2 linked regions of the Homo sapiens genome follow. The protein of the gene in region 1 purifies or fractionates together with the protein of each later gene. This does not show direct contact. Each region holds a gene or a part of one and is shown in the gene's direction. Other genes may lie near its edges.

Region 1 (5,784 bases):
AGTAGAGAAGGCCTTTTTGAATAGGACACAAAGCACACCAAAAAAAAGCCACAGATACATTATTTTGACTGTATCAACACTTAAAACTTCTGTAAAATGAAAGATACCACAGACAAGTTAAAAGAAGACCATGAAGTAGATGTATGTATTTGTGACATGTATAGAATTATCTACAAGTCAAGAAGAAGAAAAAAAGACAACCAGAGAAGAAAATTGGCAAAGGATAAGAAATACAAATAAACATGAAAATGTGCTTAACTTTATTTGTAATCAAGAAAAGTAAAATTAAAACAACAGAGAAAAGCTATTTTCTAACTATTAAATCGGCAAAATTAAAAAGCATTAGGCCAAGGATAGTGAAAATAGATACTCATACAGCTGGTGGTGTGTAAATTGGAATAACTAATTTGTAAAAGCAATTGTCTATCTCTGGTAAACATGAAGATATCCTGTGCATCCTATGAAATGCCAATTCCATCTTGAGGAATCTACCTTAGAAAAACTCTTGCACATATATACAAGGAAACACGTACAAGAATGTTCAACACAGCCCAGTTTATTATAGTGAAAACATGGAAACAACCTAAATGTTTATCAGTAGGGAAATATTTACCATTGGGAACTATCAAAAAGGTAAGTAGGTTCCATATTGTTTTATAAAAGATCTCCAGACATTGTTGATTAAAAAAAAAAAAGATGCAGAAAGGATATATCAGACACTTAAAAACAACTTAAAACATGAAAACAGAACAAGCTCACAAACTATATTTCTGTATTTTTGAAAATATGTACCCCAAACTGATAATAGTTGTTATCTATGGGAACTGGAATTAGTCTTTAGCTTTATCTGTATTGTTTGAACCTTTAAAAATTATTGTGTGTTTAACTAGAAATAAACATTTTTAAAAATTTAAAGATCATACCAGTACTTTGATTTACCAATTTAAGCTTCTTAATACTATAAAGTATTAACAGGGAAGAGCCAGCAATTTCTAGATAATACAACGTAAGATGGGGCACTTTGTAGGTTTTTGGATTTTTCTTGTTTTGCTTTCATTTTTGGTTTTGAGAGGTAGTGGGGTGAATGGAAGAATACGGGCTTTGGAGTCAAATCTAAGTTTGAATCCAAGCTCTGCCATTTATTTAGACTTTGGGCAGGTTTCTTAACCTCTCTAGTTTTTAAAAAAATTGCTATTACCTACTTCGTTGGGTTGTATAAGAATTACATGTGCTAGATTTCCTCATTTCCCCATTCCCTTTGGTTAAGGGAAATTGGTCTAGTGTGGTCTAAGATCAAAGATGGTCTCGTATGGATGACAAAATGTTTCACAAGAACACACTATATCCTTGGACCAGGATATACCAGTAAAGATGGAGGATGTAAATAATAAATTTTAGAGGTCTATTAACTGTTTAAACCATTAAGCTATCTATTTGTACCTCACAAGATCAAATACTAGATTATGTTAGTGATTTATAAATGATATTGAACTTGAAACTTCTAAGCAGTTTACATGACAGGTTGTTGATTAACAGGTTTACTTTTTTTTTTAAATCTCAGAGAACATTTTAATTTAGTTCAGCAAACATTTATTTGTGCCATCCAGCATCTCAATCTCAAGAGGCCTCATAGACCAAAATATGTCTCAAAAGGAAGAAAGGAAAACTCTATGTATTTATCAATTTATTTATCAAACTCTGGCAAGGGGGGAAAAAGTCAGGTTTAAAGTTGAGTATATGTATATACTCTGCTTTTCACTTGTACTGCTATTGCCTATGTGTGCATCTGTTAATATCATATATAGCAATTCATATGAAGATTTTTTCCAGTGAGACTTAGTTATTCTATTATTGGGACTCTGTATTAAATAATAATTTTTAAAAAAGAGTGCTCTAACTAATGTTAAGGTGGAAATTCTAGACCCCTCAAACAAAAATTTCCAAATAGGACCCCTTATCATTTAATTGTGAAATAAACAACTAATGCTTTTATGGTATTTATGCTTGGGAAGAGAATAAAATAAATAGTTTTGGATTTTCCCCATATAAATTAGGGCCTGCTGAGTAATTAGCAGTTAATAAGTGAATGCTTCCTACAAGTTTAAAGGTCATACCTGAAATGGGTATATGATGATGTATATTTTTATAGTTATAGATTTTATATAGCCCAAGAATCCTTGAAGATAGTCTAAACATCTTGGTTTGATGAGCAGAACTTTCAATAAGGGGGTAAGGGGCTAATATTGTTTGAGCACTTACTATGTGCCAAGCACTATTCTAAGATGATTACATAGATTATTTTATTTAATCTTCACCACAGTCTTCTGTGGTAGGTACTAGTATTGCCCAATTTTATAGAAAAGGGCAGAGAGATAAGGTAACTTATATGAAGTTACACAGTCAGTAAATGACAGAGCTAGAAATCATATCCAGGTTCAGTTGGCTCAAGAACCCATATTCTTAACCATTGCAGTAAAAATTGTTATGCTGTTTTAATCTGTAGAGTCAGCATGTAGCAATAATAATATAATCATTAACATGTTACATTTTGCATATATTGAATGCTTTCTAAAGAAGTAGTTTATTATCAGACATATTCTTAGAATCATACCCATTTTATAGCAGGATTGACAGTGTTATAAAGAGATTACGTGATCAACATGGGGTGAGTCAACAGAACCAAGAAGTTTCTGATCCACAATTGCCTTCACTTGCTAGGTTCAAGTAAGGATCATATAGTGTTTACTTACATTTGCCTTAGATTTTTCAGTATAGCATGATGAAATTCTAAATGCTTATCTCAGACAGTGATGCTATCTGAGCAAGACATGGACAATTGGGCATTAGTGTGAATTTTAGGACACTAGAGCGTAGGTACAGGTTAGAAAACTTAATCCTCATCTTGTGGAAGTCATGGCAAAGCCAAAGAGGAAAAGCCTGTCTTAAATGCTTTTCCTTTTCCAAGGGGCAGCTAAGGTGCCCAGATATCTTTGCCCTCCAGGGATGCAGGTGTGCTGTTTTTTATTCTTTAATCATTCACATAAATTAAAGCCTATTCCTTTGCATTAAAAAAAATGTAAAATGACACTCTCCGTGTTTTATTGCCAGGCAAGAGCTTTGAACTTCTGTCTCATTGAAGTTTGATAAACTAAGGATTTTCCCGTGTTGGGTGGTACCCTTAACCACAGAGGGAGCATTAGACTGATAAGAGCTGCAGGTGAAGGAAACCACCAGGGCACGGCAATTAGGGAGAGCTTCGCACTTGGCTGTTGGCTGGTGTAAAACTCTCTGCAGGGAGGAACTTTTCTTCTTAGCTTCTTCCCTTCACCCACACGTAAAAAGAACACCAGGGCTTTCTATTTCTACTTTGCGAACTAGGAATGGATGGGATGGTTCTTTTCAAGAAACTTTCAAATTTAGGGACAAGTTCTAACTTCACACAAATGCTGATTGGTATGAAGGTGGGGGGACAGGACAGACAGACATACACACACATAAATTCACGTGGACCCAAATGGACCATATCTCTCAGGTGATTTTACTATCAACATACATTCCTGCCTTTGTGCACTGTGTAAAATAAAGATAATTTTTACTTCCATAACTGATTATAAAGTGTTAATGGTGAGGCAACGTGTTAAGAGAATGGGTTCTTGTATCAGGTAAACCTTGGTTCAAATCTTGGCTTCTCTTCCCACTAGCTGTGTAAATTAATTTTGTAAGTCTCAGTTCTCCCACTTGTAAAAATAGAAGTCTAAGAATAACTATTATAGGATTGTATTTGGAAGAAATAGAATAAAGCATGTGAAACAATTAGTACAGTACTATATCTGTCACATTGTTGTTTAATAAATTGTGCAAGTACTCAAAAATGGTAGCTGTTATTATTTGTAATATGAAACTAAATATCTGATTGGTAGATTAATGTTAAACATGCATGGTCCAATATATTTCTTTCTTTCCTTTTTTATATTTTTGGTATAAAGTCTATTTTCTTGAAAATTCCTGCTTTTTTTTTCTAGAAGGACAAAAGTACTTTGATTTTTACTGCTCTGAAAATATTTATCCCGTAAAAAGCTTTCACATTAACTTTGAGTCCCTGGAGCTAGGGAGGAGAAGCAGCAGGATTTGCTACTAAGTAGAGCTCTTTCATTTCTACCATCAAAAAGAAAAAAAAAAAAAATCCTGTGCTAGCCTTAGGTAGAGCTAAGTCATAAAAGGCCATATAGCCTAAGGAAGGACTCTTTTTATAAGATCAGGATAAACCGATAGAAGAAAGGAAGGAGAACACAGAGGTGAAAATGCAGCTGATTTTAATGTTTCCCTGGCCATTTTCCCTCCCAATTTAATATACACCTAATTATAATTATTATATTTTGAAAACAATACCAGAAATTGGCAGGTATTATCTCACAGCTTCACTCTTAGTTTTGGCCGTTTCTTAAAGAAACAGTTTTCTAGTTGGATGAACTGTTGAGTTGAGGCACTGATTTTGTTTTCACCTCTTTTTGGGTGGGGTTGGGGGTGGGCAGTCAGGGTTTGCAGTGGTTTATAGTTGTTAGTTTTGGGAAGCACTCATTTAGATAGAATGAGTCACAGAATGTAAACAGGTCATCCATCTGGACTTTAGGCTGCTGGGAACGTGGTGAAACCTTAGGTCACCGCGATCATTATGGTCAAATGAAGACTTTTGGGCTCAGGTTGGCAGGTAAACTTACTTGTTTTATGAGCTTCACTAGACTACCAGGACTTCAGAAATAGTTTTTTGAAATACCAATATTTATAAATTTTAGGTAATTCCATCATATTTTCCTGAGGAATGAAACTGTGAAAGAAGTAAATGTCTACTTTGGCAGCAACTTCATAGAATTGCTTTTTGGAAGGATATTCATCACTTTGGGGTTTTTTGTTCTCACTGCTCCAGATGAAAGTATTTTTCTGAATTTTTTATGGTAAATGTGGACACTGAATTGGAAGCTTCTATGTAAAGTTTGTCAGGAAACCTCTGTCATACCTAAGGATAAAATTCAGAGAAAGGGAAGAAGTATTTGAGTACCTGACATCTAAGAAGTTCTGGCCTATGTTGTTTACTGAGTAAACTCCCAATAATGCTTTGAGACAGGCTTTTAAGGAAACATGTTATCAATCACGTACTATGTACCAAACACATAGTGGTGTTTTACCTGTATTATCTTATTTATTTCTCATAACCCTATAATGTAAGTACCATTATTATCCCCATTTTACCATGAAGAATAGGCTTGAAGAATAATTTGTTTATGGTCACATAACTAGGAAGTGGCAGAGCTGAGAATGGAGCTCTCAACTCTCTGTAATCCAAAGCCCAGGTTCTTAACCAGTGATTCTTAAACTTAAGAGTACATAAGAAGCATCAGGAGTACTTGTTAAAAATTACTGGGCTGTAGTAAAAAATGTAAGGTCACTAAATCTGGGACAGTGCCAGACTATAAATCTGCGTTTTAAACGGCATCCCAGGGGATTCAGATCAAGAAATTGATTGACCATATTTTGAGAAACATAGTTAAATTATATTGCTTTTCACACTTGATAAAGAAGAAAACAGGTGTAGACTAAGTAACTATCCAAGATTAAGCTACCAAGACAGAGCCATGATTCAAACTCAGGTCTGTCTCACTCTAATACTCATACTTTTTATTATACGCCCATGATTAACTCACACATTTCCAAGTCACAACAAATGCAGAAAACATGACATCTAATAAACCAAGCCAGATAGATTTCATGGTCTTGTTATTTACCAAA
Region 2 (2,246 bases), on another chromosome or scaffold:
CAAAAACTTTAAGTGCAAAGAAGCTTTATTTTTTGAATTGGTGTTTGGGTTCAGTAAGAACAGATTCTAATACCTTAGATTTGTTTTAAATAAATGATTATGAAAATAATTTTAAAATATGAAAATTTTAGGCCAGGTATAGGCAATGGCTCACGCCTGTAATCCCAGCACTTTGGGAGGCTGAGGCGGGTGGATCACTGGAGACTAGAAGCTCCAGACCAGCCTGGCCAATGTGGTGAAACCCTGCGTCTCTACTAAAAATACAAAAATTAGCCAGTCCTGGTGGCAAGCACCGATAATCCCAGCTACTCCAGTGGCTGAGGCAGGGGAATCACTTGAACCCAAGAGGTGGGGGTTGCAGTGAGCCAAGATGGTGCCACTGCACTCCAATCTGGGTGACAGAATGAGATTCTGTCTCAAAATATAAAAATAAAAAAATAAAAAACTTTAATCTAGATATTTAATAAAAGCGTGAGTGTATTTATACAGCCAATATCCCAAATCATTTTAATGAAAAGCATAACAAACTTGTGCACGTGTGTATACATATACGCATATGCTTTTATAGGTAGTATATGTATGTGTATGTGTATATATGTATCCATGTATCTATATGCACATATGTAGAGGCATATGACTGTTATATTTAACATATAAAATAGCTGTGTGTGATTTTTAAGACAATCTCAAAAGAGGTATGTTTCCATGGCATTGCCACCTGCAATTTGAGGTTTTTCTTTTTATTTGTGTTCCCTTAAACCAAGCAAATAGAAGAGCCATTTGGACTATTAATGTGTCCTTTAGAATAACTGTTACTATAGCTTACCGATATGATATGACAAGCCCCAACCGCCACAGTAAACCTCGGGTTCATTATAAATAAACCACAAGTCACAATTTGAGTGGGTCATCCAAGTTAATCCCATAGTAAGGATGGAGCGTGAGAAAATACTGAATTTAAAAGGATGCACACAGGGGAGAACAATAGAATAATTGAAACAAGACTTGGTTTTTAAAATCTGAAAGCCAGGATTTTAAACTGATGGGGTGAAAGGAATCAGAACTGGATTGCTTCTCTATCTCACCTTTCATTGGAGGTCAAGTATGCAGCATTCCCACATGACTTTTTTTGTTTGTTTTTTCCACTTCTCTAGGGTTCTTTTCCCCAGTCCTTTGTAAACATAGATTTTAACTACTGTTTTCTTCAAAATCGTATAACTTCTCAATGAAAAACTGTACTTGAAGACAAATCCCACGAAATAGTGTGATTTGAAGAAATGAGTGTACTTTTAACCTAAAGAGAAATGCAATGAAATATTTTCTTGAAAAAAAACTTGTAATATTAGTATTAATTTTACAAAAAAAGAAAACTCTGAATAATTCCAAAAACTATTTGTAGAATGGATGAAGCAATGCCTGAGATTATAGATGGGCTTGGGGACAATGGAGTTTTATAAAAGGCCCTCCTGTAAAGTAATTTACTAAATTACTTTTAGTACAAAGTATCTGTTGATGTTAAAAAATTATTGCTTTGGAAGCTTATCTAAATTATTTTTTTTTCATTTCAGAGATAAAAATCATATAGACCAATTGAAGCATGAACGTGGATTGTATTTAAGACATAAACAAAGACATTGACAGCAATTCATGGTTCAAGTATTAAGCAGTTCATTCTACCAAGCTGTCACAGGTTTTCAGAGAATTATCTCAAGTAAAACAAATGAAATTTAATTACAAACAATAAGAACAAGTTTTGGCAGCCATGATAATAGGTCATATGTTGTGTTTGGTTCAATTTTTTTTCCGTAAATGTCTGCACTGAGGATTTCTTTTTGGTTTGCCTTTTATGTAAATTTTTTACGTAGCTATTTTTATACACTGTAAGCTTTGTTCTGGGAGTTGCTGTTAATCTGATGTATAATGTAATGTTTTTATTTCAATTGTTTATATGGATAATCTGAGCAGGTACATTTCTGATTCTGATTGCTATCAGCAATGCCCCAAACTTTCTCATAAGCACCTAAAACCCAAAGGTGGCAGCTTGTGAAGATTGGGGACACTCATATTGCCCTAATTAAAAACTGTGATTTTTATCACAAGGGAGGGGAGGCCGAGAGTCAGACTGATAGACACCATAGGAGCCGACTCTTTGATATGCCACCAGCGAACTCTCAGAAATAAATCACAGATGCATATAGACACACATACATAATGGTACTCCCAAACTGACAATTTTACCTATTCTG

What was found. The genes of interacting proteins can lie anywhere in the genome.
Region 2: the proteins of CSTPP1 (region 1) and ALCAM purify together in Homo sapiens (co-immunoprecipitation; one large-scale study listed by IntAct). This does not show direct contact.

Annotation. Positions count from the first base shown.
Region 1 is NC_000011.10:46,980,578-46,986,361, forward strand, and holds part of CSTPP1 (centriolar satellite-associated tubulin polyglutamylase complex regulator 1), read left to right. Parts: intron 1-5,784. UniProt on the Homo sapiens protein: Regulator of the tubulin polyglutamylase complex (TPGC) that controls cytoskeletal organization, nuclear shape, and cilium disassembly by balancing microtubule and actin assembly.
Region 2 is NC_000003.12:105,572,909-105,575,154, forward strand, and holds part of ALCAM (CD166 antigen isoform 1 precursor), read left to right. Parts: intron 1-1,568; 3' UTR 1,569-2,246. UniProt on the Homo sapiens protein: Cell adhesion molecule that mediates both heterotypic cell-cell contacts via its interaction with CD6, as well as homotypic cell-cell contacts. Promotes T-cell activation and proliferation via its interactions with CD6.